3 separate regions of the Homo sapiens genome follow, and regions 1 and 2 are each linked to region 3. The links come from fine-mapping of genetic effects on gene expression. A gene starts in region 3. Each other region holds a variant in brackets. All regions are shown on one strand. Distances are between the middles of the regions. Region 1 overlaps GAS6 (growth arrest specific 6). Region 2 overlaps TMEM255B (transmembrane protein 255B). Region 3 holds the start of GAS6-AS1 (GAS6 antisense RNA 1).

Region 1 (7,655 bases), 41 kb before region 3:
ATTCACATAGATATACGTACACACACACACTGACAGACATGCACACACATAAACAGGCACACACACATACTAACAGACATGTACACATACATGCACACATTCACATAGACATACGTACACACAGTCACACACTGTCCAGACATGCACATACAAGGCACACACATACTAACAGACATGTATACATACATGCACACATTCACATAGACATACAGTCACACAGACATGTACACATGCATAATGACATGCACACACATACTAACAGACATGTACACATACATGCACACATTCACATAGATGTACCTACACAGTCACACAGACATGCATACATAGGCACACACAGACATGTACACATACGTACACAGTCACACACACAGACATGCACACACAAAGGCACATACTAGCAGACATGTACACATACATGCACACATTCACATAGACATATGTAAGCACACAGCCACACACTGACAGACATGCACACACATACATGCACACATTCACATAGACATACGTACACACAGTCACACACTGTCCAGACATGCACATACAAGGCACACATACTAACAGACATGTATACATACATGCACACATTCATATAGACATACAGTCACACAGACATGTACACACATGCATGACACGCACACACATACTAACAGACATGTACACATACATGCACACATTCACATAGACTTACATAGTCATGTACACACATGCATAATGACACACATACTAACAGACATGTACACATACATGCACACATTCACATAGACATACATACAGTCACAGACATGTACACACATGCATAATGACACGCACACACATACTAACAGACATGTACACATACATGCACACATTCACATAGATGTACATACACAGTCACACACACAGACATGCATACATAGGCACACACAGACATGTACACATACAGTCACAAACACACAGACATGCATACATAGGCACACACAGACATGTACACATACGTACACAGTCACACACAGACATGCACACACAAAGGCACATACTAGCAGACGTACACAGACATGCACACATTCACATAGATGTACATAGTCACACACAGACATGCATACATAGGCACACAGACATGCACACACAAAGGCACATACTAGCAGACATGTACACATGCACACATTCACATAGACATATGTAAACACACAGTCACACACACTGACAGACATGCACACACATGCACACATTCACATAGACATACGTACACAGTCATACACTGACAGACATGTACACACATGCATAATATGCACACATGTACACACAGTCACATAAATAGACACATATACACACACAGGCACACATGGATGCCCAGCCACATGCATGCAGACACACACAGACACATGTGCACCCTCTCACACACTTTTCTCTTTCTACAACTTTGGGGTCAGAAGACCACTGACAGCTGCAGCAGGATCACTAAAAAGTGACACAAGGTCACGGGGCTCTGTGGCCCCAGCTTCCTCAGACCCCCAGGGTCTCTCCACTCCCAGAGCCCCCTGCCTGAGGGGCCGGAGCCCTGTGGCCAAGGCCTTTCCTCCTGGGCCCATCCTGAGGCCTGCAGGTGGACCCCGGCCCGGCCTCCTCTGAGGGCCGTCTTCCGTGCTGGCTCCGCAGCCCTCTCCTGTGCCCGCACCTGTGCAGATGCTTGTTTTCACCCGGGCGTCTGCAGGCACTTGGTGCCAGGCTCCTCCGGGGCTTTCTCAGAGGCAGCCGAGTGCCAGGCCCTGCACACGACACCCTCACCCGAGCCGGAGAGCTTCACATCTGTGGAAAACTCTAATTAAAGACGTTTTGAGAAACGCTGAACGTCTCCCTTTGTTATTTAGGAACAAAACACTCTTTTAGGAAGCAAGTGCTTATGGCTTCTTTCTTGAGATTCTGAGTAAAGGGGCGTTAAGCTTGCTAGCTGGGGCATGCTGAGCACTTCCCAGGTTATGGCTTTACCCCAGAGCGATTGACAGGCATCCAGGTTTCCTCATGCTTCATTTTCCCCTGTTTTCTAAGGTTAAAACTGAGAGCTGTTTCTCCAATGCAAAGCTGCTTGTTTAAGGGTTTCGTATTTGATGTTGGAAATGCTCTGGACTCTTCCATGGTTTTTATATTCCAGTGATTTCACTGCAAACCTGGTGTGTACGCCTTGTAAATTTTGACCCTGGCCAAGTGAAAGGTTCATTTTAAAAGTTTTAAAATAAATTTTAAAGGGGAGCTGGAAGTGGAATAAGTTAAGAACAGTATCAGTTTTGCCTTTCACTCTGACAGAGGCACTCTCTGCTCTGACTGACGGGTGTTGATTAAAAGTATAATATTCAAAAGAAATAGTAAAGTGCATTGGGCCTTGTTAATGTTCTACTAATTTTCTGGGGCTCCGTTTTCAAATTATAGGTGAAATTTTTTTCCTTCCAGTGTTAGTGCCTATGATAAGAAAATACATTTTCTCCACATCTGTCCACAAACCTGCTAGACCCTGTTTTGTGACTACCTCCCCTTGGAACTTGGGGCTCCATGGAAAACACACAGCTTGACCCAGCCAGCCCTCAGAGAGCCTGGGCCGGTCACTGCAGTGGCTGGATTCTCAGCATAAAAAGGCCAAACGTTCGGCCAGGCTGGGACTGGCTCCCATCCAGGACCAACTGTCCACAGTACAGTAAGGCCACTCTCTGAGTCAACATTGTTTCTTTTCTGAATTGCTAAGTTGACCGTCCCTGCAGAAGCAGAGAGGGCTGCGGTGTGGCATTCCTGCCCACTCCAAATGAGGGCAGCCCGGACGCGGGAGCTCTCAGGGAGGCGCAGTGGGCTTTGGGTGTGTCTGGACTGTCTCCACCACACCTGGAAGATACTGTTCACTTCCTTTTTACACTTGTGGGAAATACATGACAGTGTTTACGGGCAGGCTGGCTTTCCGTTTATTTCAACCCTGACAATTGAATAGCAGCAGCAGATGATGAAACTGTTCACTTCCCGATCACTCCCGTTCTCAGATCCATCACTTAGCTCGTCCGTCGCTCAGCTCGTCTGTTAGTCTGAAAGATGAATCGTGCACGGGTCCTCCTGAGAGTGCTGTTCTCGGGGTCTCCATGTGTGAAGTTGTTACATCCTCATGACAACTGTGTAACAGCTGTCACTGAGCCATTTTACAGATGTGGAAACTGAGGCCCTGAGAGGCTGTGGAGGGCTACAGTGTGTCCTGGGCATTTGAGCCCCACACTCTGTCATTAACTCCTGTGCTCGCTGGGACTGGGGGAGAGCAGGACGCGGCAGCACCCCCGGCCCCACTGTGTGCTCCTCTGTGTGCAGGCGACTGTGAGCATACTGGCACCCATGTGAGGGCTGAGTGGTGCTGGTGTGGGCGCATAAAGCACAGGGCGGCTGCGGGGAGCTGGGTGTGTGTCAGTGGCTCGGAGCATTAGTCTCGTGAACATGGTCTGCCAGGTGCGTCATGCTGGGCTACAGAGCCCATGGCTCCACCATAAATGGTGGTTTTGTGTTTGAACTTGAGTGTTGCTGCTCAGTGAGGCCAGAGGAAGGCACCAACCTGCAGGCCTGGCCGGTCCTCACAACACGGAAGGCAACCAGTCCACTAGAGAGACATGTGTCCCGGCCACTGGAGGAGTCCAAGTGACCTTTAAGTCTCACCAGTCCTCAGAGCAACCCAGGTGAATTTGGGGCCTGAGCTTGGTCGTCTGGCCGAAGACCAGCTCAACTTGGATAAAGCTGGAGGAGAAGCCTGTCCCTCAGGCAGCTGCCAGGGCATCTGTGATTTCTGCTTGCGTGCACTCTTGGCGACTATTGGTGGTGGTCGCAGTCAGGGCATCTGGTTGCCTTTACTGTCCTTACACCAGCTGGGCAGAGCTCAGGCTGGGAGCCCAGTGGGAGAGGCCGGGGCGTGACTCCC[G/A]GCGCAGAAGCGGCAGTGGCACACCGGCGTCCCAAGCACAGCTGTCCCTGCCAGGCCCCTGCGCGTTGGATCTTTGGGTTGAGTCATGCTCGATGGTGCAGCCATCCTTTCAAGGGAACTGAGCTGTCCAGCGTCCCATGGAGCAGCTCCCCGTGGATCCGGAGAGGCCGTAAATAAACCTCCCCATTTGTAAGCCGGGAACACACATGAACTTTGCAATCGTGTTTGTCCTGGGATCATAGAACGTGGTGGCTGGCAAGACCCAGGCATCCTCATCCTGTGCTGCTGTGAACAGAGGCCGGTAGCTTATTGAGGGACCAGTCCCAGTTCGCTTTCTGTGGGGAAGACTCTGATGGAAGCCTAGGCCCCAAACTCCAAGGTTAGCACATCTTCTTGGGGGGATTGACACCTCCAAAGGTGAACTTGGGTCCAAGGCACGTGTGTGCGACCTGAAGCATGGGTGCCGTGTGCAGGAGACGCCCTCACCGGAGATGGGGACCGAGTCCACACGGCTCTAACTGCAGAATCACTGGCCCTGTGCCCACGACTATTTTATTTTGCTGTTTTATATGATCACAAAGTACACTGTCTTGTTTTTCCCAAAGCATTTGCAGTGAGACATCCCACTTCCTCTCCACGGCAGCTGTTGCGGGCACGAGGCTGCTCCCAGGACAGCGATGCCACCGGGGCTGGGGTGGGCACGGAGGAACCCTCTTCCTTCCTCCTCCCCGCCCTCTGCTCCCCCACAGACTGGCCTGTCTTTAGTCAGCACTTTCCCAGGCTCCCTTCTGCCCACCACGTGCAAACAGTGGCGTGTCCTGGGCCTCTCTCCTTGTAGTGTTTCTTGTGGCCAGCATCCCTCCCATCCAACAGCTGTGTGGCTTCCTGACTGGCTTCTCTCAGGGCCCGCAAGGATGCTGCCAAATGGCCAGAGACAGTCACTGCTCTGCACTTCAAAGCAGGCAGCCCTCGGTGGGGCTTGCCCTGAAAGACAGCGGGCCTTCCTCGATGAGAGCCTGTGCTGGCTCAGGGCCTGTGGGGGCTGCAGCTCTGTTCCTTCCCTGCGTCCACGCTCACATGCTGAATGTTGTGCACCACAGGACACCCTGCTGGGGGCTGTCGGGAGCATGCTCTGTGTTTGGGGCAGAGACGGGCAGAGTGAGTCTCAGCATTACTGCCGTGCAGGGTTGAGTCTCAGCATGACTTCCATGCAGGGGGAGTCTCGGCGTCACTGCCATGCGGGGCGAGTCTCGGCGTTACCGCCGTGCAGCTGCTGGAAGCCACTCGAGCTCCTCTGTCTCGTTTGCCATGAAGCCCATGAGAGACACTGATGTGTGTCTCGGGGCTTCTGTGAGAAGAGCTTGGTTACCCACCGGGTCAGGCACCACGTCGGTGCTGTGAGGCATGGAGGGTGCTCACAGCTGTGCAGTCAGCTACAGAGGCCTTTCCCAGCATCCACATCTGACCGGGCAGTCACACCAGGATGAGCTCCCAGGAAGAGGGCTCCCAGCAAGGGAGGGCGCACCTGGGTGTGAGCTTGGAGGAGGGCAGAGGCACCTGTCACCGCTGACCCTGGGTGCAGATGGGCATGCCGGGTATACTGACTGTGCTTTCCTGGGGCCTGTCTCCCTCCAGGTCAGCCTGGGGTCCTCTGGGCTGGGGGCCATGCACTGCCTCCTGTGGGCAGTGGGATCAGCACTTCCACTTTGCTCAGGGCTAGAGCAGGCTGCTGCGGGTGTGAAGACTTAGGAAACGAATTCGGAAGGAAGGAAAGGATTTTGCACTTCCCAAGCTAGAAGAACATGAATAGAGCCGGGCTGCCAGGCCAAGGGTCTGTAAGACGGCGGCTCTTCAGAGAGTCTGCAAATGCTGAGAAAGGAAGGCTCCCCAAGGGCAGTTCCTGTGGGCGTTACTCTGAGTTTTCTCATAGAAGTCAAGTTCTTGGAAGACAGCACTATGGTCAAAGGGTTAGTGAATTCTTGTGACCATTTCCCATGGAAAATATCAGAGAAAGTTATGGTGTTGATAAACAGAGTCCCTGTGCTCAGCAGTCTCCACCCACTTGTCAAGTAAGATAAAGATTTTTGGAAACAAAATTTATGGCTGTTATTTGCTAAAGAGAGTAATACATTCTTAGCACACTCTGAAAAATAACCACTATTTGCTGTATGAATGCAGATGAAACTCACACAAAAAGATTTATGCAGGACTGACATCGGGTGTTTGCAGAAGGTTCTCCACGTTCACTGACCTCTGATCCTCACTGCAGCTCTGCGGGGACTGTGGCCCAAGGATGAGTGAGCGTCAGGTCGGGCCGTGCCCTTAATCCCCTGGCTGCCCCTCACCACCAGGCAGAGACCTTGCTGGGACCCAAGGAGTTAAAGTGTATTCAGAGATGAAGGTGTTTAGGAAATGTTCTGGAACCTTCCAAACTGACTTTAGGCTGCGTGAGGTGCTTCCAGTTCAGTGCACTTTGGGCCCAAAAGTGTTTCCTGTCTTGTTAATGCACTGTGTTGTGTGCCATCACCGCATGGAGGTTTTGGCCATTTTTAAAAAGTGAATGGGCCCTCCCAGGGTCTAGTTGGATCGAGAGACCACTGGAAACCCTCACCAAGCTGCAGGCAGGTAGGCAGGGGCCCCAGAGCAGGCCTAGGGGAAGAGTCCCCCCGGCCCCTTGGAGGGTCTCTTCACGTGCTGGGTGCTGCCTGATTCCTGCGGTGGCATGGGGAGGTCACCCCACCTTGTTCTGAACCACAGCTCTGGGTGAGGAAGCCTGTCACCAGGTTAAAGGTCATTTGGGGGTTGGGGCGTGAGAACCGCAGTGCCCTGCTGGTAGGGTTGCCGCATGGGTGGCCAGGCTACAGCCTGGTCCCCGAGGCCGACCCATCCTGGGAACCCTGTGTGCAGCTCCCTGCCATGCTTGACCTTTGCCCTGTGGGTGGCTTTGAGCGGGGGAGACCTGGGTCTGGTGGTGGGCAGGGCAGGGGCGGAGGTGGACTTGGGTCTTTGTGACACTGCACCAATTCCCATGGATTCTGCCGGCACCCACTGCCCTCCTGAGCAGAGCAAAGGCAGCAGAGGCGGATGCCAGGGTCCGGAGGTGGCATCTACTCATCAGACACTTTCTGTAGTTTTATAACAAATTTGGGGCCTCATGTTAGACCCCAGCCAGACCAGGCTCCTGTCCTGGGGCTCAGCTCCCTCCAAGCTGCTTCAGGTTCAGTTTCCTCCATGCTTACGAAACCGAAGGGCAACGGGCACAGTCAGGGAGGCGTCAGAGGAGGCACCGGCTCCACTGTTCACACCGGGACCTTCTGCAGACGGGGCTCCCAGCCTCGACCAGCCCCGGAACCCCCAGCACGGGGACGTCCAATCTTTTGGCTTCCGTGGGCCACATTGGAAGAAGAACTGTCTTGGGCCACACATAAAATTAACACTAACAGTAGCTGATGAGCTAAAAAGAAGGTCTGTGCCTAAAGCTCATGTTTTAAGAAAGTTTACGAATTTATGTTGGGCTGCATTCATGGCCATCCTGGGCCACTCACAGTTGCGCCAGAGCCTCGGGAGCACAGGCCGAGCACCTGCCCTGCTTCACCCAGGGACGGGGCCCTGCACTGACCAGGAGGCTGTTGCCCTCCAAGTCGTCCCTGCCGGGAACAGCAAAGCACACAAACCTCCGAGAGACCTAATGGCTGCATCCTCCGTGCAGTGGGCACCACGCTTGCCACCTAGAAGAGTG
Region 2 (7,655 bases), 50 kb after region 3:
TAGAAGCTTAACACTGACATTTAAAGCAAATAATCCCGCCCTCAAAGGCATTTTATCCAGGGACGAAGGCCAGACATCCCTACCTCAAGAACCTCAACCACTGAGCAGCAGGTGCGTCTGCTGGCGTTGGGCAGGCATCTCTGCAACATCACCTGTCCTGTCTTCTCTGCTCAGAGGTTTTTAATGATGCATCTGTTTGGCTTGTGACTCTGGGGTAAGAGAAGTTCCCACTCCTCCCCCAGAGACAACATCTTTTCGGGAACCCAGGGCCACCAAGCACCACCATCTGTCCCGTCTTCTCCAGGCCTGAGATGCCCCTGAGCATGGCTCCTGGGTAAGGTATTAGGGAACTACAGCCGTGTTTCAAAAGAAGGGTTGCCAGGCACAAGGGCCACCAGTGACCCCTGCTCAGACGGCCTAACTCTGGTTGCTGCTTCGGGAGAGTGAGCAGGGCAGACCGTTAGCAGGGAGGTGCCAGGTGTGGGGAAAGGGCACCTGAGCCAGGCACAGAGGGGGCACCTGGGCCAGGCACAGAGGGGGCCCCGGGCTGCAGCACAGGCCACCAGGGGTCCGGCAGAGCCCCCTTACTCCACAGGAAGCCCCAGCTCTGGGCAGAAAATGATACTGGGATGTCGGGAAATAGACATGGGACTGTGCTGTCTTAGAACAGAGGCCACCGGCCGGGCATCCGCACCCTCCACCCAGGGCCCGTCCTGGCAGGTGACGCCCACCTGGCAGAGGAATTTTTAAAATCAGTGTGAAGAACATGCATTTCAGCAACACCCACCGAAAATCTGGCTCAGAGCAGCCAACATGGACCTGCCAACGACCGTGCCGAGGCCTAAGACGGCTCTTGCTCCCACGCAGGTGCGCCGGGCCGGTCGCACTTCCCAGTGAGTGTCTGTTGGAAGGGGTGGCCCGCCCGGCACAGCCTTGGAGTTGCTGGGGCCGTGGTGTCAAGTTTAATGCACTGGAAACCGGACTTCTTTATGTAAATAGTTTTGCCTTTTCTGTAATTGTCTGTGTGTCTGTGGTGATAGACACGTACACATGTGGCTTTCACCAACGGTTTGAGAATTCTCCAGGGATAACAGGAATATTTCTTCATGTGCTGAGCTTCAAAATACTGCAGTTCAACTCCACACGTCAAAAATATCAAAATTTCACTTCGATATACATGTATTAAAATACATCTGTTACACTACGTTTTATTTTTTGGGGATTTGAAAAAAACCACACCTTTCTTGAAAATGTGGAGATGTTTTCACGTTCTGGCCGCTTCTTCTGAGATCAGCTTCTTAAGTCTCTACATTGGCAGAAAGTCTCCACAGAAGTGACTCTTAGCCACGTTTCCTTGAAGCTGCTTTTATTTGTTGTCTCCCTAGTTTGCTTTCAGAACTGTCTGTACTACAGGCCATTTCAATCTGGTCAGCACAGCATTAATTCATTGCCCAGAAGGTAGATTCTTTACAGAGCATAGCTTGGGCATTAGCCATTGATGTTTTTCATTATGTTATTCTGAGGCAGCTCTTAAATAAGCTTGAGGACAAACCAAAAAAAACAACCACTCAAGGCTGATCTTGATGTTTCGCAAATCACTTGGAGGTCCCTCCTCACAGCCACTTGCCCTCTGGGCTCCCCTTTCTGCCCAGGAAGCAGAAAAGCCCCTCACATGAGGCCAAGGTCCCCACACCATTGGCCTCTTGCAATTTTACTGATAAAGCTTTTTCTGCATAGATACTATTTGTATATGTTTATTCATAAACTATACACAGGTAGATAGTGTAGATGTCTAAGGCACACCCTAAGATATAAACAAAGGAAAATATAATGGTGAAATAAACAGTATTTGTAAAATATTTCTAAATACTTAGGGCCAAAAATCTTTCATCTTTGCTGATTGTCATCAATATTATTACCAATCTTGGTAGTACTTTAGGTGAGAGTAATGAGATTGAAGAAGCCGCATTTTAAAATCTTGCTTTAGCACTTTATGACGTAGCAACCAGGCTCTGGGGCATGTGAAGGGCATCGCAGCTGATCCAAGCCATTCCAACAGAGGTTCACTGTGCAGAATGCAGGCACTTAGGAGAATTCTTTTACTAACGACAGAGGATGTAATTTCATAGTTCAAAAAACCTTGATACTTTTGAATCTGGGTGACCAATTCTTGCCAATTAGGTTACCATCAATTTACCTCGCCGCCTTACTGTTCAAAATCTGGCCTGACGGGTGGATGAGGTCAGCACCACCACCTTCTGGCCGTTCCCACGCGATCACGTCACTAATACGATCTTTGACCCACGGCTTCTTGGTAGGAATCGTTTAAAGTTACTTTCCCCTTCCATGGGCTATGGTGGTCGACCTGGTCCCTCAGGGTAAAATCCTTCCAGGATGCTTGGGGAGGCTCTGTCCGGCCTTTTTGGACATCCTGGGCTCCTGGCCCCTCCTCCACCTTGGACATTTCCTGTTGCCGGGCTCTGGCCCCCCTCCTGCCCTCTGGTCACCCTGTGACCACATCGGGCCAACCCAGACAATGGAGGGCACCTGGCCCTATTTTGAGATCAACTTGGACCTCAACCCCAATTCCCCTCTGCCTTGGACCTGCCACTGTCCCAGGTCCTGGGGATTGGGAAGTGCATGTCTGTGGGGGCCATAACCCTGCCGACCACAAGCACTGATCGAAGCCTCCCCACCTTCAGCCCCAGCCCTGTGAGCTGGCGTGGACTCCACCCTGAGAGAGCCACACACCACCCTGCCCTCCCCGGCCCAGGCCGCCCGCCCGGCGCACTCACAATGATCCCTGGGTAGTAGCCCCCAACGGTCACATTCTCCGTCCTGGTGGTGGCAGCCAGCCCGACGGTGACTATGAGGACGGACACCAGCAGCAGAGACCCCACAAACCAGAGCGACGTCTTCTTCCTCCTCGAAAGCCCTTCTGTGGGGAGGAAGGCGAGGACCTGTCAGTGAGGGCTCAGGCTCAGGAGGGCGTCAGGCCAGCAGGCTCTGGGCCGTGCTCCGTTACCCAGGGGTCCTGGGATGCACTATCCCCGCCTGCCTCCAGGCCCACCTCAGGGGACCACCCCCAACCTCCATTAGATAACAGAATAAAATCTCTGGACCATAAGCCACTATACTGGATAGCCTGGTATTTGCGGCCAAACCTAATTCTAACTGTCACAGAACTCAAGAAAGCAAACTAGAAAGGACTCCTTCCTATTGGCTGCCTCTTCCTCTATCTGACTTTCTCCCCCTGGTGTCCCCAGGAGGACAGGAGCATCTTTTGTTTACTGTTTTATCATTACCATTCGCTCACAGACACACCCTCTCTATCCGCCTATCCCAGCCACACCCAGTGGGGGAGGGGGCTGCCACCAGGGGAGGGGCAGGGAGAGAGGAACGCACACAGCA[G/A]CCATCCAGCTGTGCCATCTGTTTTGCTTTATTTTTTGAAAACTGAATCATCTTGATCCCTGTGTGACTCCAAACAAAATAGGGGATTTAAAAAACCATGGTAAGGTCTTCCTACTCCAAGAGTTTGAAAATCAACATTTGTGTGTGTGCACATGTGTAAGTGCGTGTGTGCAGGGAAAGCAGACCGCACACTGGAGAGCCGCTGGCAGCGATGACGGCCGTGCAGACATTGTCCACACCCTAGAAGGTCCGCATCTGAAGATTTACACTTCTGCAATCCCATCAGCAGAGCTCAATGGCAAGGCAAGGTTATCGCACCCAAGGAAGGGATTGTTACATCCTCAGAAATGAGTTTCACAAAACTATAAATCAATGTGCAGATGCAGAATTGCTCTGCTGATCTGAGAGAGTCATTTTTATCCAGCTGACCCAGCAAGGGCGTGGCCTTGGTCACGGCCTTCCTTCAAGGCCCTCTTGGACTCAGCACAGCCCCCGGCACAGCACCCTGCCTGCCTCTTGACCCTTGCAAAGATACACTTGTCCCAAGAATCTCATCCTAAATCGCTTTTTACCTTCCACCTTGGAGGGGACCAGATCACTCCATTCGCCAATGTAATAAACCATCGGCTCCCACCAGCCAGCCAGGCTGCCCCCGTCTTGGACCCACTGCACCGAGGCGGCCAGTGGCACTGTCCTTAGTGTTATACTCCAGGCCGCAGGCAGTGGTTTCAGCCTCTCCCTGGTTGCCCCATCTCCTGCCTCCTTAGAGGCAGGCTTGTTGCAGCATCCACAGGGCCTTTGTACCTGCTGTCTCCAGCTAGACACTCGCAGCACTCCCTGAAGGCCTCTCTTACATGTTGCTGCATAGACACACTGAGTATAGTAGCCACACTCACCCCTGTGCTCTCCACAGTTGCCCCTTCACCCCTGCCCCTGCAGAGCATCCTCGCATGTGAGAGGCAGAGGGGACACCAGACAGACAGAGGCACACGCTGCAGGCATTGGAAAAGGCCAAGTTCAGTGGAGAAAACTTAAGCAGGGCTGGGGACAGGGCGCTCCGGATGTGTCACCCACAGGCAGCGGGCAGAGGGCAGAGCCTTCCCTGAGGGGCCTGGTGATGGCACAGTGCACCCCTCAGCCCAGCACCACTGGTGTGGAGTGAGGCCCTCCTTCTGAAAGCCACCCTCCTGAGACACCAGAGGCCGCAGCCCGGTGCGGGCCAGGGAGCAATCCCCACACCCAGCCTCAGGAACACGCCCTGGGGTTCGGGGTCCCTGCAGCCAGGGCCACACCTGCGCCCTCCGGGTCCCCAAGGCAGCTTCTGCAGGGGTCACACTGAATAAACCTAGAGGGGTGACAAGCAGGTGGGTGCAGGGGCGGGCACAGCACCAGGAGCCCCAAGGCCACACTGGCGGCCCAGGACCTGGCACCTACACATCCATCACCCAGTGTCTGTTAAAGTCATGCTCCCCCAGCCCCAACCCGTGTCCCCGTGTCCCACGCCCACGCCCCGGCCCATCCCACCCCAGGCCACACCTGCCTTCCTGTGTGCATGGAGCACGTCCTTTCTTGTCTTTGGATGGGGAGGACACTCCCCTCAAGTGACCGAGGCCCAGGCACCCGACACCTGCCCTGCATGAGGGGATGGGCGCTGCACCTGCCAGCCGGAACACACGGCCCAAGGCCTCCTCCAGCTCCGCCTCTCAGTCCCTCGCTTCTCAGCCTCAGGCTTCCTTCCTCCTCCCCACCTCTAACTCGCACAGTTCTTCCCTGTGTCTCTCATGGTATTTCTGAACTAAAAGCCAACCCTCGTTGGACTGGAAAAGGTTGGGAAGATGATAACGACATTCTTACAAGGAAAAGGGAGACAGTGGGTATATGTTGGAAAGTGTGATTTTTACGCTGCTCAGAAGAGCAGAGTGATTTTTTGTAGAACACTCATAAAGTACTGAAAAATGCAAAAGGGAAAATAAAATTCATGGTAACCTAAATTAACAAGTAGGCATAAAATCTTATGGTCTTTTTTCAATGCACTATGTACTTTTTAAAACATTTTTTTCTTAAATTAGGACCACAATGCTTTATAGTAATTTTTTCACTGAAATCTTGCAATTTGTTAAAAACCTGAAAGGTTATATGTTCACGGTCGTTTGCCCGAGAGACAGGAGCGATGGCGACAGATCCCGGGTCTCTGTCGGGAAGTCGAGGTGAGAAACGGCAAACCCACGCTGGGAGCAAGTGGGCAAGAGGAAGGCAGGCACCTCCCGTGGGTGAAACTCCGTTCTGGTTGATTCGTTTTAGAAAGGTAGGTAAACTTTTTAAAAATGGACACAAAATTTAAAAATATATGCAATTCCACATTTTGGAAGTTAATGAAACAGCTATTGTGGAATTACACAAAATAATCATATTGATGATAATAACACCATCTATGGATTGGGCTGTGTGTCGATTTTCAGAGCAGCCTAACTTCCTTATCTCATTTGATCATGACCAGAGGCTCCAGGTCACCCTCACCAGCCTCCATGTAACACCTGCCAATGCAGCCAAATGCTAGGTGCCTTCAACTCACACAATTCCCGCTTCAGCCTTTCCTGCTTTTCCTTAGGCTCCCATTCCAATCTTTTGACTGTTTAAATGTATTTTAAGAGCAATACAATTTCTAAAACTAAATTTTATGGGACTAAGTATTTGAGAAAATTATCAGACAAACGCTGTCCTTCTCAAAGGATTTTGTTGTGCGATTTTTCTTAATTAAATGCACTGCATGCATATAATATTATGCTCAAAATAGTTAACCAGATGACTCAGCGTCTGCTTCGACCCACAGGTAGAACCTTCCGTGGGGCTCCTGTCCCAGCCTCCTGTGGGCGTCCGTCTGTCAGGAACCCTGTGACTGGATTCTGGTTCTTAAAGCTGGAAGCTCTGCTCGGTTCCTTGGCATGAAGAGTGGGGGCCCAGCAAGACCCACTGGGCTAACTGACCTTGTCAAGTCAATCGGTAACATGCTGACTTGTTAATTACTATGCGAAGAGTTAGACACATCTCCTCTGAAACCACGTAAATCCTCCTACAAACCATTTTCAACCTAACTTTGCTATGTTTACCCCTCTTTCCTGAGTCTAACTTCCCCCCCATCTGCTACAAAATAAAAAGCAGAAGGTATGAGCCACCCTTTTATCAGCATTCCTATCACAGATTCCTAGATTATACAAGTCTAGAAAGACAGTAGAACTTACATGGGGCACTGGGAGCAATGGTTGCAAATCATCTCATTCAATTACACAATGGTGATATTTTGACTCCAGATATAATAGAGATAACAAAAAGAAGACTCCCAACCTTAAACACATTCTATAAATACATGACACAGCATAAAAATGAGAAAAAAAATAAACTCAAGAAAAGAAGGTGGGATATCTTTATAATTAGCATAAGAGATAATTATAAGGTCAGATTTTCAAGAGAAAGGGGCTTTCACTTAGGAGAAAGATAATTAAAATCACCTGAATAATTTCCTTGATTTTTTTTTTTTTCCTGTCCCGGAAATACTGTTATTACACGCACTGTGAAAATTAAAGTGCTCCTAAGTGCCCCAACTATTAATTAAAATATCTACCAATAGGTTTCTATTGCAGAGGCAGCTTACAGGGACTGGACCCAAACCATTCTGGGTCTGTCCAGACCCATTGTGTGGTCTTGGGCGGCCATTTAATCTCCCTGAGCCTGGGAGAAGAGAACCCTATGAGAGCCAAGAGCTCTGTCTCTTGTTTGTCGCCGGTTCCCGGGGCTCAGATGAGGACATAGACACATCTCCTGGTACGGAATGAATGAAGGCACTTCAGTCTCCTGACCTGTAGGATGGAAATCATGAGAACCACCTGCTCACCCACCTCTTGAGATTGTGATAAGCGTCCAGTGAGACACGATACGTGGGCTCTCATATAGGTTTTTGTAAATGGAATGCATATGCTAATCATCAGGGTGGTGTGAACTTTAAGACGGCGTAGCGGCTATTCTTAACCAGCATTTCTCCCACTGGAGTTGCAAGGAGGAGTTCTGAGATGTGAAGCTGAAGGGGCCAACAGCTACCTCTCTGCTATCAAGTGCGCTGATTTTTCTAATTCTAGTCTTCCCCAGGTGCAGCCCATCTAGGATATCTCAGAATATCACCTTGTCACTCCCCACCAGCCCCCACTTCTCCCATCCCACCTGCTCTCCCCTTCCTGGCTCCTTCCCCAGCC
Region 3 (7,655 bases):
AAATAGTGACGGGGGAGGCCCTGGCCTCAGAGGGCAGACGTCAGGCTCCTGCCGGCTCCCTTCGGAAACGTCCATCTGCCGCCAGCGGCCCCGCGTGTGTGTGACGGCTCTCGCCAGCCTCGCCCAGCAGCACGTGGACCTTCCGCAGGCAGATGCGCTTTCTCCACTCGGGCCGGGACAGATGGCCACCGGCTGCTCACACGGTCGGGGACCCGCAGCCCAGGCCTCCACGCTGGCTCCGGGATGTCCAGGTGCTGGTTGGGCTGAGGATGGTCGGGCCCAGGGCTCGGATCTGGCCATCAGCACAGAAGCCCAGTTCTGGGAGGCCCAGGCGTGGATGCTGACGGCTCGCTAAGCAGGCCAACTCGTCTGACCCCGACGATGCCAGAGCCAGCTGAGCAGAGCTCCAAGAAGCCCGTGGAACACAGCCCCCTGGGCCCCAGGAGAGCCCTGCACTGCCCACTGCACGGCCTCACACGGCCACAGGGGCCACAGCCGCACGCTGGGATCCCAGGCTCCAGCCCGGCACCGCGGCGTCCCTCAGATCCCGGCCTCCAGCCCGGCACCGCGGTGTCCGTCAGATCCCAGCCCGGCACCGCAGCGTCCCTCAGATCCCGGCCTCCAGCCCGGCACCGCGGCGTCCCTCAGATCCCGGCCTCCAGCCCGGCACTGCGGCGTCCGTCAGATCACATTGGTGGGTGCCCCCCAGTGCTCTCCCATAATGTTCCCCAGCCGGCTGGGAGCCTGCTCCTGCCCAACCTCCATCCTCCCCAAGTCAAGACGGCCAGGAGCAAAAACAGGCAACGGCCAGTCTCAGGGACAGAGACGTGGGGAGGCCCCCACAGACACAGGCTACAGTCACCAGTGTCCTCAGGACACAACCCTCCGCCTGGGTTTCTGCTCTGCCTCCAGACGAATCAGGAACTTCTGTTTCCTAGTATTGTTTTCTTAGAGTTCCGGGGGTGCCAGAAGTTATAATAACCACTGTCCCAAACAAGCAAAACCAATGGTGCTAGGAATTGCAACACAGAGGCCCAGCCAGGCCTGTCACGTTGGCGACCTGGCACCCTCCACAACCAGGCATGTCTGGGGTGTGCAAGAGGATGGGAAGACAGAGCACGTGGTGCAAGTGCTGGTGCCCTGGGGAGGCAGGAGGGATGTGCCCCTTAGAGGGAGGAGGGATGTGCGCCCTGGAGGGAGGAGGGATGTGCCCCCTGGAGGGAGGGGTGATGTGCCCCGTGGAGGGAGGGGGGATGTGCCCCCTGGAGGGAGGGGGGATGTGTTCCCTGGAGGGAGGGGGGATGTGTCCCGTGGAGGGAGGGGGGATGTGTCCCGTGGAGGGAGGGGGGATGTGTCCCCTGGAGGGAGGGGGGATGTGTCCCGTGGGGGGAGGGGGGATGTGTCCCGTGGGGGGAGGAGGGATGTGTCCCGTGGAGGGAGGGGGGATGTATCCCGTGGAGGGAGGGGGGATGTGTCCCCTGGAGGGAGGGGGGACAGCCCTGACTCTGGGCTGGAGAGGAGGAAGGAGGTTGGGCATGTGTTTTGCAGGTGGGGTCCTTTGATGTGGCCGCGTCCTGTGCACAGCAGATGCAGCATCGCCCCCTCCTGGACACCCAGCCTCATGACAACACGAAATGTCTCCAGAGGTTGGCCACTGTCCCCTGGGCCCGGGCACCTCTGGGGAAACACTGCTCTAAGCAAGAAGGAACGTTTCGTCCTACTTCACGTAATACGGCAAATATGAACATCAGATTTTTAAATGCCAACGGAAGCATAAAGCAAATGTACAGCCGGGCTAATCCCAGCACAGCCCATTTGTAGGAGAAGCTCCAGCCACAGCCCCTGCCTGCAAAGCAAGAAGGGTCACCTGCCCCAGGGTCAAGGACTCCACGAGGGGAGAGGGGGAGGGTCCGCTCCATGGTGCCCTTGTTTCAAGCACGTTTTCTGCTTACTGAATTCCATCAGTTAAAAGGTCTAGGAAACAGAAAAGGAAGTGGCGCGTGTCGCCGTCTGAGGATCTGCTGACGGGCCCCGGCCTCGTGGAATCCTCTTCTGCCTCTGTGGGTCTCCAGAGTTTCGGAGGCATCTCTGCTCCCACCGCGGGGTCTGGTGGCCACGGGGTCCCCAAGTCTGCAGGAGGAGCTGCTCTGTGTGGCGAGGGTGATGACCATGGCTCTTGTTCACTGAGCAGGGCCGGTGGCCAGCACTGTCCAAGTCACCAGTGCAGCCCCATAAGGCCATCTTCACAACATCCTTGGGGCCCGTTTCTCCCACTCCCGTTTCCATGGAGATGTGATTCACACAGCAATAGCCACGCCTCATGAGTGCAGAGCATGGGTCGGTGGTCAGTCCATCCACGGGGCCGTCCACCCATCACTGCCATCTGGCTCCCGGACACTCCTCTTCCCACAAGAACTCGTGTCCCTGACCAGTGACTGCACCTCTCCCCATCCAGAACACGCTTAGAACACACTTGCCTCCCCGAAAAGAACTCGTATCCCTGACCAGTGACTGCACCTCTCCCCATCCAGAACACGCTGCAAACACGCTTGCCTCCCCGAAAAGAACTCGTGTCCCTGACCAGTAACTGCACCTCTCCCCATCCAGAACACGCTGCAAACACGCTTGCCTCCCCGAAAAGAACCCGTGTCCCTGAGCAGTGACTGCATCTCTCCCCATACAGAACACGCTGCGAACACGCTTGCCTCCCCGAAAAGAACCCGTGTCCCTGAGCAGTGACTGCACCTCCTTTCCCAGTCGGCTTCTGTCTGTGGACACGCCTTCTCTGGACACTGCATATAAACAGAACACAGTCTTCATGTCTGGTGTCCTTCCCTGAGCACTGTGTGTTACAGCCTCAGCACCCGTTAGAGCTTCCTTCCTCTCCGTGGCCGGGTGACCCGCGTGTGGATGGGCCACGTCCTCTCCCTCTCTGTGGCTGGGTGAGACCCGCGTGTGGATGGACCACTGTAGTATTCTGTTTTCACACTGCTAATAAGGACATACCCGAGACTGGGAAAAAAAGAGGTTTAACGGGACTTACAATTGCACATGGTTGGGGAGGCCTCAGAATCACGGTGGGAGGCAAAAGGCACTTCTTACACGGCAGGAGCAAGAGAAAATGAGGAAGAAGCAAAAGCGGAAATCCTGATCAACCAGTCAGATCTCGTGAGACTTACTCACTATCACGAGAATAGCACGGGAAAGACCAGCCACCATGATTCAATTACCTCCCGCTGGGTCCCTCCCACAACGCGCAGGAATTCTGGGAAATACAATTCAAGTTGAGATTTGGGTGGGGACACAGCAAAACCATATCACCCATGTCCCTTCCTCTCTCCGTGGCCGGTGACCCCATGTGGACGGACCGTCACCCATGTCCCTTCCTCTCTCCGTGGCCGGTGACCCCACGTGGACGGACCGTCACCCATGTCCCTTCCTCTCTCCGTGGCCGGTGACCCCACGTGGACGGACCGTCACCCATGTCCCTTCCTCTCTTTGTGGCCGTTGGCCCCATGTGGACGGACTGTGTCCCTCCCCCACTCAGTAGTTGCCTCTGCTTGGGAGCTCTTGTGAGCAGTGCTGCTGTGTGAAATGTAGAAACTGAGGCAGGAGGAGACTCCCTGTAACCCAAGGTCCCAAGCTAATAAGGTGGGGCCAGTCTCAACGGACCCCTGCCCAGGGCAATGCTCTGACCCTGCCCTCCTCAGTCACAACCTGCAGCTACACTAGGCCCCCACCTCTGAGCTGCAGGAGAAGCCTGTCTCCTGTGCTGTCCCAGTGAGGCAGGGAGTGCAGGTGGGGCCACAGCACCCCAAACCCCCCAGCACCCCCTGCCCCGGGGCCACAGCACCCCCAAACCCCCCAGCACCCCCTGCCCCACCATCCCCTCCACCCCATCTCCCGCGGCCTCCAGGGTCTCACTGACCTCGGCTGTGCATGGGAACCAAGTGAGGGCGGGATTGGGAGCCCATCCCTGCAGAGGAGGCTGGGATCAGAAGGCCCCAGCGGAGCCCAGAGAGGGGGTTCATCAGACCGTGACTCAGGCTGGCAGAGCTTGGTGGCCCCAGACAGGATCCGTCCACATGAGACAGGTGCACCTCGAGAGCAGCCGCCGCCCACACTGCAGGCCAGGCATTGGCCGGAGCCCTGCGCCAGGTGGGAGCTGCCCTGGGACCTGGGGGACCCTCCAGCCACCACGAACCTTGAGTCAAATTGTTCACATTCTTTGTGGCTGGGATAAAGGATAAGGACATTTTTGTGGCAAGAACAAAACTGTTGACCTTGGAGTTGAATATTTTTGAACAGCTTTTGACTCTAGACAAGATTAAAAGTCGGGAAAGATCGATGTTGTGTTTGGGGGAAGCTGGTGAGTGCAGCCTCGGGGAAGCACTCTGATGCCCCCACACCGCACCCTGCGACCGAGGGCTGACATGAGGGGAAGGAGGGTTATTCCTGTGACTTTGCTGGCCAGAGCTCCAGGGGGCATAGACTCCCTGCCCAGACCTGCAGTTCAGCTTCTCTGCTGTTCGCACCCCTAGGACACCAAGAGGTGCTGGTGCCTGCACCAGGCAGCTTCGGGGGCACAGCCCGAGCTCCAGGGTGCCCAGGAACCGCCCACACAAGACCACGGCACCATCGGCGCCCATAGAGCCTTCCCTGAGGTAAAGTGAGAGCCCTGGGGACTCGGGAAATCCGTGGCACACTTTTCTTCCCCCACAGGCGCTCGTGAGTGCATCTCCCGGCGCTCCAGAAACCTCTTGGTCTCTGCTGCTTGTTCAGCTTCTTACTCGGAGCCAGGCACCCACAGCCCTGGAGGAACTGGGCGGTGATTTCCAGACAGGACGCCGCACCTCCGGCTCGTGCCCGACCTCCCGGACTGGTTCAAGGCCAGTCAGCCCTGAGAGGCCAAGACCACATTCTCCTGGACAGCAAGCTTGTGAGGCTGGATTTTATAAGATAAAAATGACAAGCAGTGGCGGGTTCACAGACCAGAGCTGGCTGCAGGCCTTTCAGAGGCCCGTTAGGGCCCCTGGGCCCAGCCAGCCACCGTTCATGTGTGGATGTGCGCTGTGGGCCTTCTGCCCAGGAGCGCTGGACACAGGATGAGACCCTCCGTCGGGCAGAGGGAGGCTCCCGGGCAGCGGAGGGGGCAGAGGCTGTGTGAGACCCTCCATCGGACAGAGGGAGGCTCCCGGGCAGCAGAGGGGGCAGGAGGCTGTGTCTGCACGAGTGTGGCTCCCCTCCACCTTATCTTTTTTCTCCCAGATCCAGGACTGGGCAGGGGAGAAAGTCCCCGCTCCACCTCCCAGGTGGGCACTGTTCCGTGAAGTAAGCTGGAGACCTCAGACCCACACGGGAGAAGAGCGGTACTTGTTTATCGTAGGCACGGGGGGCTTTGCAGGGAGGGACGTGAGGCCCTGAGAGCGGTGAGGCCTGGAGGCGCCAGCTTCCGAGGGGAGAGGGAGTGACTGGGGAACCGTGAGCGGCCCACAGAGCAGAGACGGCGACTTGGTGTCTTGTGGCACGTCTGGGGAGCAATGGGATCACCTCTCGCCCGCCCTCCCGCCCTGGGAGTCCCTGGTTCCCTGAGGATCTGACTTCAGGAGTTCAGAGAAAGCCTCTCCCCACATCCAACACTTTTCAAGAGACTTCGGCTACTTTGGGGTGGCGCATCCTGAACTCCTGTCACTGGGGCGCCTGTGACCCACCCGGGACCCGTGACCCACTCGGGACCCGTGACCCACCCGGGACCCGTGACCCACCCGGGGCCCGTGACCCACCCGGGACCCGTGACCCACCCGGGACCCGTGACTCACCCGGGGCCTGTGACTCACCCGGGGCCTGTGACCCACTCGGGACCTGTGACCCACCCGGGATGCCTGTGACCCACCCGGGACCTGTGACCCACTCAGGACCTGTGACCCACCTGAGACCTGTCCTGTGACCCACCCGGGGCCTGTGACCCACCCGGGACCTGCTGCTTCCCAGGCGTGCTCACCCGTCTCCCCAGGTGTGCCCGGCAGGTGCATGCTGGGCCCGCGGGGAGCTAAGCTGGTTTCCACAGGGAGTGCTGCGGCCCCAGACCCTGAGCCAAAGGACCCCGAAACACCGTCCCCCACCATCCCAGCGGCCAGGGGTCCTGAGACAAGGTGCGGTGAGGGAGAAGCCGCGGAAGGACAGCGGAAGCCCAGGCGCCGTAGCTGGGAGACAGCTCAGGGGAAGACCCTCGTGCCAGTGGCCCAGGCAGATTTGCATCCGGGGCTGGGAAAGACAACCGGGCCCCTGGATTCTAACAACTCACAGGCGGTTAGACACAGCGCTGGGCGTTGGAGCCGAAGCGTCCTTCCCTTCCTGGCATACGTCAGGAGCACAGCACGAGGGGCGGGTGGCTTCTGCCCTGCGCTTCTCCAGGACACAGATGCACACACGAACGTGTAACGCACAACACATGTCCACAAACAAGAACACACAGGCAGGGAGGCCGGGGCTGCACTGTCTTTGCAAAATCATAATAATAGCTAATTAATTAAGGGATGTGAAAACACCAGAACAATTGCTCTCAGAGGAGGAGGCCGGGTGGGAACTTTCAGCGCCATTTGATGTGAGCAGAGCCCAAGCCAAGGTGTCACCAGCCTGGGTCTGGAGGGCCCCACTCCCTGCCTGGTTCCAGCCTCCCTCACCAGTGTGCCCAGGGAGGAAAGGAGGGGACAGACTTCTGGAACATTCTCCCGGGTTCTCTAGGAGGTTGGCCACAGAAGCGGGATTTCTAGAGGCTGCCTTTTTTTTAAAAAAAAAAACAAACAAGTTATCTTTTACTCCACGCCTCTATCAGGGTGCGTAGGGGGGTGGCTTCTCCCCCGGGGGAAAGTAGGTGGGTGCGTAGCACGGTGGAGCCTGGCCGGGAAGCCCAGAGCCAGAGCTGCTTGGAGAAGGGGGCTGCAGGTCCTCAGACGAAGCCAGGGCAGAGGAGGGCGCAACTGGGAAGCGGCTGCAGGGCTGCAATAAACAGAGAGGGCCCTGGGTTAGCAGGTGAGACCACCCCGTGCCGGACCACAGGGAAGCCTGACATATACCAGGGCCACTCACACGCTCCCCACCCACCCCGCCAACCCAGGGCCACCCGCAGACTCAGGGCCATTCACATGGGCCCCCCGCAGACCCAGGGCTATTCACACAGGCCCCCTCAGACCTAGGGCCACTCACACAGGGCCCCCCGCAGACCCAGGGCTATTCACACGGGCCCCCCACAGACCCAGGGCTATTCACACGGGCTCCCACAGACCCAGGGCCACTCTCACGCCCCTCCCCTCCCCCGGAGACCCAGGGCCACTCTTACGTCCCCCTCCCCCACCGCAGACCCAGGACCTCTCTCACCGGCCCCCACCCCACAGACCCAGGACCACTCTCACCGGCCCCCCCACAGGCCCAGGCCCACTCTCACGGGCCCCCACAGACCCAGGACCACTGTCACGGGCCCCCACCCCACAGACCCAGGACCTCTCTCACCGGCCCCCCCCACAGATCCAGGACCTCTCTCACTGGCCCCCACCCCACAGACCCAGGACCACTCTCACGGGCCCCCACCCCACAGACCCAGGGCCACCAGAAGGAGCAGCCCCAGCCCGGGGCAGAACAGGAGAGGGTGGCCGGGG

The links. PIP is the estimated chance that this variant, and not a neighbour inherited with it, causes the effect.
Region 1: its variant is the best candidate, but not a certain one, in a credible set for the expression of GAS6-AS1 in left ventricle (GTEx, PIP 0.83).
Region 2: its variant is the best candidate, but not a certain one, in a credible set for the expression of GAS6-AS1 in whole blood (INTERVAL, PIP 0.72).

What each region holds. Positions count from the first base shown.
Region 1 is chr13:113,851,917-113,859,571 of GRCh38, reverse strand. All of the region lies in intron 2 of GAS6 (growth arrest specific 6), which reads left to right. Among named protein-coding and RNA genes, the nearest start is that of GAS6, 8.3 kb to the left of the region's middle. RefSeq lists enhancers at 4,323-5,036, 5,037-5,751, 6,127-6,626, 6,627-7,128. The variant G/A (reference allele first, on the strand shown) is at 3,917.
Region 2 is chr13:113,761,398-113,769,052 of GRCh38, reverse strand. It overlaps TMEM255B (transmembrane protein 255B), which reads right to left. Exons shown (of 9, transcript NM_182614.4): 2 at 2,796-2,938. Among named protein-coding and RNA genes, the nearest start is that of TMEM255B, 6.0 kb to the right of the region's middle. The variant G/A (reference allele first, on the strand shown) is at 3,412.
Region 3 is chr13:113,811,080-113,818,734 of GRCh38, reverse strand. It overlaps GAS6-AS1 (GAS6 antisense RNA 1), which reads right to left and starts at 3,125. Exons shown (of 5, transcript NR_044995.2): 1 at 3,044-3,125. TMEM255B (transmembrane protein 255B) reads right to left here. Exons shown (of 9, transcript NM_182614.4): 9 at 1,740-6,999. The coding sequence ends at 6,832. It also overlaps LOC124903220. RefSeq lists enhancers at 2,702-2,821, 2,882-3,121, 3,172-3,241.